Linked DNA regions of Homo sapiens: all the other regions are reported to be linked to region 3. The links are microRNA targets in miRTarBase. Many come from high-throughput screens and were not tested one by one. Region 3 holds a microRNA gene; each other region holds the end of a gene's coding sequence.

Evidence for each region. Region 3 holds the annotated microRNA hsa-miR-582-3p (UAACUGGUUGAACAACUGAACC, at 792-813, shown strand). A microRNA usually pairs through its seed, bases 2 to 8, with sites in the 3' UTR of a target mRNA and lowers its output. Matches are read on the target gene's strand: a 7mer-m8 pairs with bases 2 to 8, a 7mer-A1 pairs with bases 2 to 7 and ends in A, and an 8mer does both.
Region 1: miRTarBase lists SCN4B as a target of hsa-miR-582-3p. Seed matches in the 3' UTR shown: 7mer-m8 at 1,317-1,323.
Region 2: miRTarBase lists ARHGEF39 as a target of hsa-miR-582-3p. Seed matches in the 3' UTR shown: 7mer-A1 at 2,338-2,344.

The regions. Positions count from the first base shown.
Region 1 is chr11:118,133,913-118,137,252 of GRCh38, forward strand. SCN4B (sodium voltage-gated channel beta subunit 4) reads right to left here. Exons shown (of 5, transcript NM_174934.4): 5 at 1-3,208. The coding sequence ends at 3,115. Among named protein-coding and RNA genes, the nearest start is that of SCN4B, 17 kb to the right of the region's middle.
Region 2 is chr9:35,659,317-35,662,316 of GRCh38, reverse strand. ARHGEF39 (Rho guanine nucleotide exchange factor 39) reads left to right here. Exons shown (of 9, transcript NM_032818.3): 8 at 50-138; 9 at 315-2,974. The coding sequence ends at 330. CCDC107 (coiled-coil domain containing 107) reads right to left here. Exons shown (of 5, transcript NM_174923.3): 3 at 1,856-1,916; 4 at 1,670-1,760; 5 at 806-1,571. The coding sequence ends at 1,130. Among named protein-coding and RNA genes, the nearest start is that of CCDC107, 2.5 kb to the right of the region's middle. RefSeq lists a silencer at 271-565.
Region 3 is chr5:59,701,443-59,704,442 of GRCh38, reverse strand. It overlaps MIR582 (microRNA 582), which reads left to right and starts at 740; the gene lies at 740-837. All of the region lies in intron 1 of PDE4D (phosphodiesterase 4D), which reads left to right.

The DNA.
Region 1 (3,340 bases), not on the chromosome of region 3:
GCTCCTCAAATGTCCAGCATCTGCCCATCATGCATCACCCCTTACATGCAGAGCCCATCCACTCCACAGTTACGCTGCCATGCACCCACACTGCCTGCACACGCACACTCCACACAAGCACACCCCACCTCCTGCCATCTCACAAGCATGCTCTCAAGCCCTCGCTCCACAAGAGCTCTGATCGGCCTGCCATATGTAGTCTGAGCCCCATCGGCTGCTCTCCCCAGGCCTCTCTAACATCAGGGGTTTATTCGGGCTGCCTTCTGTTCAATTACGACATGGGGAGAAGCCCAGAACCTGGAATGCTGATTTCATATTTTGTAGTTGATGAGGAGCTCAGAACTTTGTCTTTAGTCTCGCTGACATCACTCAGCCCAGCTGCATGTGGCCAGGTCTCTCAAGATCGACTTTGTAAGTGGCTCTCTCTAGCCCACAAGCCCTGGAAGCCACCATCAGAGATTTGCATGCACTGAGGTTCCACTTGGGGAAGATAGCTTTGCCCATATACATCCTAGTGCAAATCCATGCCAGTGTTTCTCCATGGGTATAATGTTGACATGGGACAGGATGATTCTTTGTTGTGGGGACTAAGTTTAGCATTCTTAGTAGTGCCCCCACGCATGGGGGCAACCAAAAATGCCCCCCCTACAATCTCAGTCACCTCTATTGAAAACCATCAAACAAAAGCCATGGACAAGAAGCTTTAAGCATCAGAGTCAAGGTTTCTAATATTGCAAAGACTAAATAATTCCAAGGGGGGTGGGATGGAAAGAAAGAGAGAGAGAGTGTGTGTGTCTGTATGTGGGTTGTAGAGATGGGACACAGAGATGAAGACAGGACAGACTTGGAACTATCCCTGCAATTAATACCTGGCTTCCCAGATCCCTTTCCAAGCCAAAAAGATGTTTTTAGACAAAACTTGCCAAGCCTCACAACAGTCCTGTGAGGTAGGTAAGTATTATTACACCCATTTGGTAGATGGAAAGAGCTGAGCTGAGAGAAGCTGCATGATCCATCTAGAAATCAGCAGTAGACCCTGGGGAGGAAAGAGAGGATGGTGCCCTTCTTCTCCCTACTCTACGTGCCTTGGCTTTCTCTTAAGACAGAAGGAGGAGCCCCAAGGTGCTCTGCCTCTTCAAATGTCACCATTGAGAAGGAAGAAGAAAACAGTTTTGCATGAAGGTAGCTATAAGAAGTTTTCTGAATGGCTGGTGGCTCTGGTCTGTCTGCTCCCAAAGCCAGGAAAATCTGAGCCCCAGCCCATGACAGGTTCTGGGTAGAGAAGAATGGGAGGCGCACAGGCAGATCAGACGGGGAACTGGTGAGCCCAGCAGGTTGGCTAAGGGACACTGGCCACAGCCACGGGCACCCTGCAGGTACTACTGGTCCTCAGTCTCCCCCCACTCCACCCTTGCGAGGCTTGCAGCTGCTTTTTGACAGGGAGAGCTCTGAGGTAGACCCCAAACTCTCTGAAAAAGGGGGCTACTCCTCTCTCATCCCTCCTAGGGGCCCAGAAGACAGGGCATCAAAAAATCAGTAAGGGAGAGAGGGATTGGAAGTAGATGGGCAGAGAGGCTTGTTACCACTTTTCCCTGCCATCCCTGGCCTCACCAATTCTGCCCAACAAGGACTCAGGAGATCCCACTCCCAACATCACCACCTCCCCCTAGGGCAGGCTAGAAACCCCAATGGGAGCACCTGGCCGACATCTCCAAGATTCAGTCACTGGCCAATTCCAGCCTCATGGCCCCCTCTATGACCCTGGGGAGGGGAGGGCTGGCGAACCCTCACCAGCACCACACCAGACTCTGCTGTTATGTCAGGACATACCGTCTAGAGAGGATGGGGGTAAGGGCTAGGATTCAGGACTAAGGCACATTCTAGCCCCACACACAAGGGCTGTGCAAACCAGCTCTGGGAGAAGCAAAGGAAAACTGTGGGCACCCACTCCCTGCTCCTCCCCAACCCCAGGGTGGGAGGGGGTGGCCCAGCTGAGCAGGAAGCAGCTGGGAAACCCAAGGACCCCCTCATCCAAAGGAAGAGAGTCCCTGAGGCGAAGGCAGGCCCTTGACCCAGGGCTGGGAAATGAACCACCCTGGGGGCAGGGCGTGATGGAGGGCACGGTGGGGGGGGGGGAGCGAGCCAATGGGAGGTTGGAGGGTGCAGCCTCTCAGGTAGGAGGGGGAGAAGCAGGGGAGAGCTGGGCTCAGGAGTGCCCAGAGTGGCGATGGTCCTGCCATGCCAGGGGAGGGGCTGCCAGCATTGGCAGCAATGGGGCGGGCATCCCAGAGGCCCAGGACACTGGCTCACTACCTCTGTGGCCCAATTCCCCAAGTAGAAATGCTTGGAAAGGCATAGGGAGCACTCGGGTACTCCAGGAAGGCTCGAGGGGCCCCTTCCTGAGCCCCTCAGTAACCCAGAGAGCAGAGGAGCAGGCTAGGTGGCCAGGAACCCTCAAGACCAGGGTGGCCAGCCCTGGTTGAGAGGGCTTAAAAACTCTGAGCAGGGGAGGGGATAGGCAGATAGGGTCCCGGGGCAGGGGAAAGGAAGTTTCCTACTTGGAAGACTGTGGGGGATCTGGTATCCTATGAAGCAGAGGCAGTCTCTCACTGTGGGCCTGCCCCCATCAGCCCCCACCCCAGGTCTTCTCCAGAGGCCTCCAGCCCACTCCCACCTCCAAAGGAAGCCACTTCTTCCTACACCCCATCTCCAGGGTGCAGCTCTTAGGACATCCCTTACGGATCCTCCCAGTCTCTTGTGAAGAGAAGCCTGGAGGAAAATCAAGGCCCTGCTTGTGCAGGGTAGGGAGACTGAAGGAGACCCCATCTGCCCAGGTGTCAGGGGACCAGCCCCTCCACACCACCCTAGCCTCTCCTTTCTTTCTCCTGAATCTTCCACAGACCCCCTCCCCTGGCCATCCCTTGTCCCTGGGGAGCCCTGACTGGGAAGGGGATGGGCAGGCTGGGCAGGACTCTGGTTTCTTGTGCCCGGAAAGACTACAGTTTGAGCCAAGCAGCAGATGTCTCAGGCACGTGGGTTCTACGGTCGGGGCTCAAGCATCAGTTTCATCATCAGAAAGGGGGCTCCCTGCAGCTGCTCAGCCCGAAGCAGGGCTCACACTTTTGAAGGTGGTTTCTCCTCTGCCTTGGAGCCAGGCAAGCCGTTCTCCGTGTTGTCATTCCCCGAGGAGCTCACGAGACACTCCTTCCTGGAGAGGGAGAGAGAAGGGACAGTGGTGAGGAGAGGAGCAAGAGTAGGGGGAGAATTGTGGCAGGAGCCGTGGGCCCTGCACCCAGCCCTGTGCCTCTCCCTGGCCTTCTACAGAGCTAAGGTAGCCAGA
Region 2 (3,000 bases), not on the chromosome of region 3:
TTAGCCTGGACCTTTCTGAGCCATGCGCTAAGAGGTGGTCTCTCTCTAGCTGTCCTTCCCTCATGAGAAGCTACTGCTTATGTCCACAGACCAGGAGGAGCTGTCACGCTGGTACCACAGTCTGACTTGGGCTATCAGGTAAGTTGTGTCTTCCCCCAGGAAGGGTGCTGTGATGAGGCCCACAAGCAGGAAATATGCAGTTCCTGTCTCATGCCCTACATTGGTCTGGCACACCCCAGCCACCAACCCCCAGATGATTTTGTCTGAATAAAGCACTCATACCAGTGCCTGAACTGACTGTCTTCTCTCCACAGCAGCCAGAAAAACTAGAGGAATCTTATAGATTCCAGAACTCAGGATACCTCAGGGATAGGTCACAGCCAAGAGTACAAAGGAATCTTCAGTACTGAACAAAACAGAACCCTTCATGATTTGACAAAGGTCACTTTCTGTTTGCCTGGACCAAGCTACTCCAGATCATCTGACCAACTCTTAAAAATCACGGCCAGGCACAGTGGCTCATGCCTGTAATCCCAGCACTTTGGGAAGCAGAGGTGGCAGGATCATTCCAGCCCAGGAGTTCAAGACCAGCCTGGGCAACACAGTGAGTGAGACCCTGTCTCTATTTAAGAAAAAATAATTAAGAAATTTTATTAAAAAAGAAGAATCAGGAAACCAAGTCCAACCCAACTAAACCTCAAATGAACCAGCCCCTAACACAGATGAGGGGATTTGGGACTGATAAGCTCTGTGCTGTGTCCATGGCCCGTCATTTATCAAGGCTGCAGCTTTGTAAATGTGGCTATTTTTATGTTGTGTATAGTTTCTATCATTTATTTTTCCACTGGATTTGAGTAAAGTTTTTTTTCTTTTTTTTGGGAAAGACCCTTCTGTCTCAGTTTTGCTATGAGAAAAGGGATTTTTGGGCCCTGAACGCGGGCATGCTGGTGGCCTCAGGAATACGAGGAAAAGAGCTGGAGCTCCCTCTATCTTCTCTGCTGTCACACTGGAAGGCAGCCTCTTTTTGTCCTAATAAGGACAGCTCTTCAAGAAGGCCCAGTTGTCCTTAGGCACCTAGTATGGGTGTGTACAACCAACTAGGATCGAAAAAACACACAGGAGCACTCCATCATGAAAACAGACTTTGTTTTAGTCGACCTTCAGCTGTCGTCCCTCCTTCCCAGCCAAGGCTGTGACTGGGGCCCTTTGCCACAGCCTGGCTGCACCTTCTCCGTAGTCCCCGCCCCACCTCCCAGGAAGTAGCTAGGTTCCATGTCTCTGTGCTCCAGTTTGTGGGCTCCTCCCAGGCCTGACTGTCACCAATCTCCTCCTCGTCCTCCTTTAAACAGAAGTCCTCAGGAAGAGGTCTGCTGGCCTCTGTGTGGGGAGAGATCAGGAATGTTCCAGTTTCAGAGACTTTGTCTCCACCTCCAGCAGACTCGCCTCCCGAGCCTTCACCTGGTTCTGAAGCCTCCATATCCTTGTCCGGCTTGCTATCTTGCAGCAGCTCGTGGATGGTCCATAGCTTCATGTTCAGAAGCTCCTGCTGGGCTCCAGCCAGAGTAGTCACACTGAAGAAATGTCCACTCAGTGGCTCCCAACCTATGTCCCCATTCCTCCCTCCTGCCACAAATTCCCCAAAAATTCACAGAATCATTGCTCTCCTCACCGCTCAAAAAGGGGGTCCAGCTGGGCCATCAGGTTGTTCAGGTGCTGCTCTGTCTGGGCCAGCTGTTGTGTCAACTGGGCCAGCTGTTGCTCTGGGGATAAGGGAAAAAAGGGGGCAGAAGTGGTTATGTATCTTCTGCTGTCCCCTAAACTCCCCCGACCCAGCACAGACTTCTGCTAAACCCACCTGACTGCAGTGGCTGCTGCTTGCTTGCCTCCTCGTGGAGAACCGCAGTTTCATCTTTCCCCTGTTGTGGAAGAAGGAAAGGGCAGTACTGAAGCAACAAGGTTCTGCTCCATCACCTCAGTCTCCAGAGCCAGCCAAGAGAGAGTGCAATTTGAGATGGAGACAGTGATTGGGTTTTTACCTCAGAGAATCACAATCCTAGTCTATCTAGCTCCTCACCCAGCATATGAAGCGACGTCCTATGTCCCACACATGGTCAGTTTGCTGAAACACCTCCAGGAATGAGCAACTCCCTCCGGTTTGAAAAAAGCTCTGGTGGCTGAGTGCTGTGGCTCACACCTGTAATCCCAGCACTTCGGGAAGCCAAGGTGGGTGGATCACCTGAGGTCAGGAGTTTGAGACCAGCCTGGCCAACACGGTGAAACCCTGTCTCTATTAAAAATACAAAAATTAGCCGGGCGTGGTGGCAGGTGCCTGTAATCCCAGTTACTTGAGAGGCTGAGGCAGGAGAATCGCTTGAACCTGGGAGCCAGAGGTTGCAGTGAGCCGAGATTGCGCCGCTGCACTCCAGCCTGGGTGACAGAGCGAGACTCCATCTCGAAAAAAACAAAAACTTTGGTTGTTAGACAGTTCATGCACAAAGCCAAAATTTGTCCTTTATGTATCTTCTTTCCATAGTGCTTACTGGAGCCTTCCAAAATAATGTCTCCTCAAGGTGACAGCCCCTCAGGAATTTGAAGGCAATGGTCACACCCTCACCCACTTTCCTGAGTTTTTTCTGGTTTATTAACGTCAGTCTTTACAGTCAGTGCTCATTGACGGTGGTTTTCTCTGGTTGTTTCCTGAACACGTAGTGCTCTTAAAGCAATGCCCTGAGGAGAATACAATTCTCCAGGGGCATTCTGATTGGCAGGTGAAGCACAGTGCCATGTTCCCAGCACTGATTTGGGAAGTGGCTTGTCACATCCCACAGTGAACTCAGTCAACTGGAATGCCTAACTCTCTTTCATAAGACCTCCTGCTACATTATGTTTCTCCCAGACTGTACTCAGGTCCAAGAACAGAATTTACTAGTCTATCCTTCTCAAAGTTCATCATTAAATTCAGTCATTCATCCTAGCCTGTCACATCTACCTGGGGTCATT
Region 3 (3,000 bases):
AATCTGTCCATGGCAGAAAGATTAGTGATTTGAGATATGGTGTCATCATTGTAGATGATGGTGTCCCATTAAGCATGTTTTCACTAATTACAATAAATGTTGAAAGAAGGAGTTTCACCTAGTATCCTTACTAATATCAGGGAATGGCCTGGGCTTTGGGGAGATGAGAGTCCTCTGCTTTCAGTTTAATAAAGTAGGATATTTGTGTTTTTGTTTATATTGTTAAATACGACGGGTTAGCTTGTCACCTACATAATATTGTGTGGCATAAATAAAGGTGAATTCCCAAATATGTGCTCCATAGTGTTGACAATGAGTAAATGTTCATTCTAATAATTGTAAGGGTTACCTCCCTCGCACTCCTTGAAATATCTTTTTATTCAAATTTTTCGAGCTGGAGGTCATGTGTTACATTTCCTGTTGTGTAACATGGCCTCCCTCTCTTTCTCTGTCTCACTTTCTCACTTTCTCCCTCTTTCTTTTACTCTCTCTGCCTCTACCTCTGACTCCTTCTCCTTCTTCCCAGCTTTGCATCAGAGCCATGTAACTGACATTTTCTTGGTTCCCTCAGGACCTGTCATAATAGCAGGCAAATATTAGATGATGATTCAATGTTTAATGAATTTTTCTTGAATGTATGTATGTTGCTTCAAGTCATTCATGCACACATTGAAGAGGACAGACAGAGCCCTGCTGAACACCACTAGCAAATCTCTCTCTAGTAGACCACAACAAGTCAATCTGTGCTCTTTGATTACAGTTGTTCAACCAGTTACTAATCTAACTAATTGTAACTGGTTGAACAACTGAACCCAAAGGGTGCAAAGTAGAAACATTTCATTGTGAAGTCGGCTGGGGACAAAGAAAACACCACCAGAACCCCCTTCAATATGCAAAGGGAAAATTCCTTCTCAAGTACAAGCTACATGGTGCCTTTTTGAATTATCATCAATTTGTAATGCTGTATCAATACATATGTATTATCTGTTCTTTTGGTAAGGGTTGTTTGAAGTATAAGGTACTTCCTCCATTAAGGTGATACTAACCACATGTTAATTATTGTCTGAAAGTCACCAAGGATATGAATAATAAAAAGTTTTAAAAATAAGACCTGTTTCTTTTATTGATAGTTGTACCTCAAGGCTGAAGTGAGGTTTGCAATGTAAGTTGTAAAATGTGATGTGAAATAGACAATTCTTTGTAGTTTATATAAGGCAATATATCCATGTGCAATTATGGTCAAAAACAGCAGACTTTTAAGTGATTATTCTAAAGTTATTTTTTTCCAAAATAACTTTATTACTCTTGATATCATACCATATTCACAAAACATTCTGGTAAAGCTATTGCTCAGTGTGTTGTCCCAGTGAGACTCAGGGAACATTTCTATGTGACGCTTTAGGATTGAAGACAGTTCCACGTTTTCTGAGTAATTCCAAACTGTGTAAGAGATTATGTTCCCTTTGCATATTGGCTGCTAAGAAGCTCACTTTTTCACTTATGATACTTGGATGCATTTTGGCTTTTTGGGTTTTTGTTTTTTGGTCTAATTTTTTTTTTTTTTTTTTTTTTTGAGACAGGGTCTCACTCTGTTGCCCAGGCTGGAGTGCAGTGGCACCATCATGGCTCACTGCAACCTTGACCTCTCCTGGCTCAGGTGATCCTCCCACCTCAGCCTCTCAAGTAGCTGGAATTACAGGCATGTGCCACAACACCCAGCTAATTTTTGTATTTTTTGTAGAGATGAGGTTTCGCCATGTTGCCCAGGCTGGTCACAAATTCCTGGACTCAAGCCATCTTCCTGCCTTGGCCTCCCAAAGTGCGGGCATTACAGGTATTAGAGGTAGGAGCTACTGCATCTGGCCATGGGAAACATTTTGAATGATAACTTTGTTTGTTTGTTGTCTGTTGAGCAGGCTGGAGTGCAGTTGCATGATCACGGCTCACTGAACTCTTTCCTTTAATTTTTTTATTCTCTCAGCACGATTATAATTTATTTTAAAAGTAGGGAATAATTGGCCAGGCGCAGTGGCTCACACCTGTAATCCCAGCACTTTGGGAGGCCGAGGCAGGCAGATCACAAGGTCAGGAGATCGAGACCATCCTGGCTAATATGGTGTGAAACCCCGTCTCTACTAAAAAATACAAAAAATTAGCCGGGTGTGGTGGTGGGCACCTGTAGTCCCAGCTGCTTGAGAGGCTGAGGCAGGAGAATGACGTGAACCTGGGAGGGGGAGCTTGCAGTGAGCCCAGATTGTGCCATTGCACTCCAGCCTGGGCGACAGAGTGAGACTTCATCTCAAAAAAAGAAAAGCAGGGAATAATTAGTAAGTGCCTAACTAATCAAAAATTGTTTCCAGGTGATGTTGCTGTTGATGTATGAAAACCTCTTTCACCTAGCTTCCCTCTTCATTCTTTTCTGTCATATTTCTATTGACCAGTGCTTTCTTGGCCCTTGGAAATGTGATTAACTTTTGCCATGACCTCTATGTTAGTGCCACACCTGACACCTTTATGCCACTCTCTGCCTCCAGAACTCTGTGTCCATCTTATATGTTTTTACCTTCTGCTGGGCCTCAGGTCTGGATGCAAAGCTGTAGAGGAATTGAGCTGTTTTTCACAAGGGATCCAAGAACACATAGCATGTGTGAACTGTACTAAAGCTTTGAGAAGTTGTGAAGAAGATTCACATCAACTATGCACCACACAGCCTTCTTGTCTTGCTGGTACCATCTCCTCACCTCTGTGTTGCTCCTCTTGGAGTCTTCACCTTCCACAACCAGCACTTCTATTCTCACTGTCTGAGTGTGACTTTCCATAATTGTGAAACTCCTTGGGCTTATCCCTCACACTCATTCTTGAATTCTAAGGAATGGCATTTTCTCCATTGTGCTTACATTTGCTTTTCAGTATTAATTGTTCTAGAGAAAAGCATTCATTCACTCACTCACTCATTCACTCATTTAACAAAACCTGTATGGGTATCTACAGTACTATGTT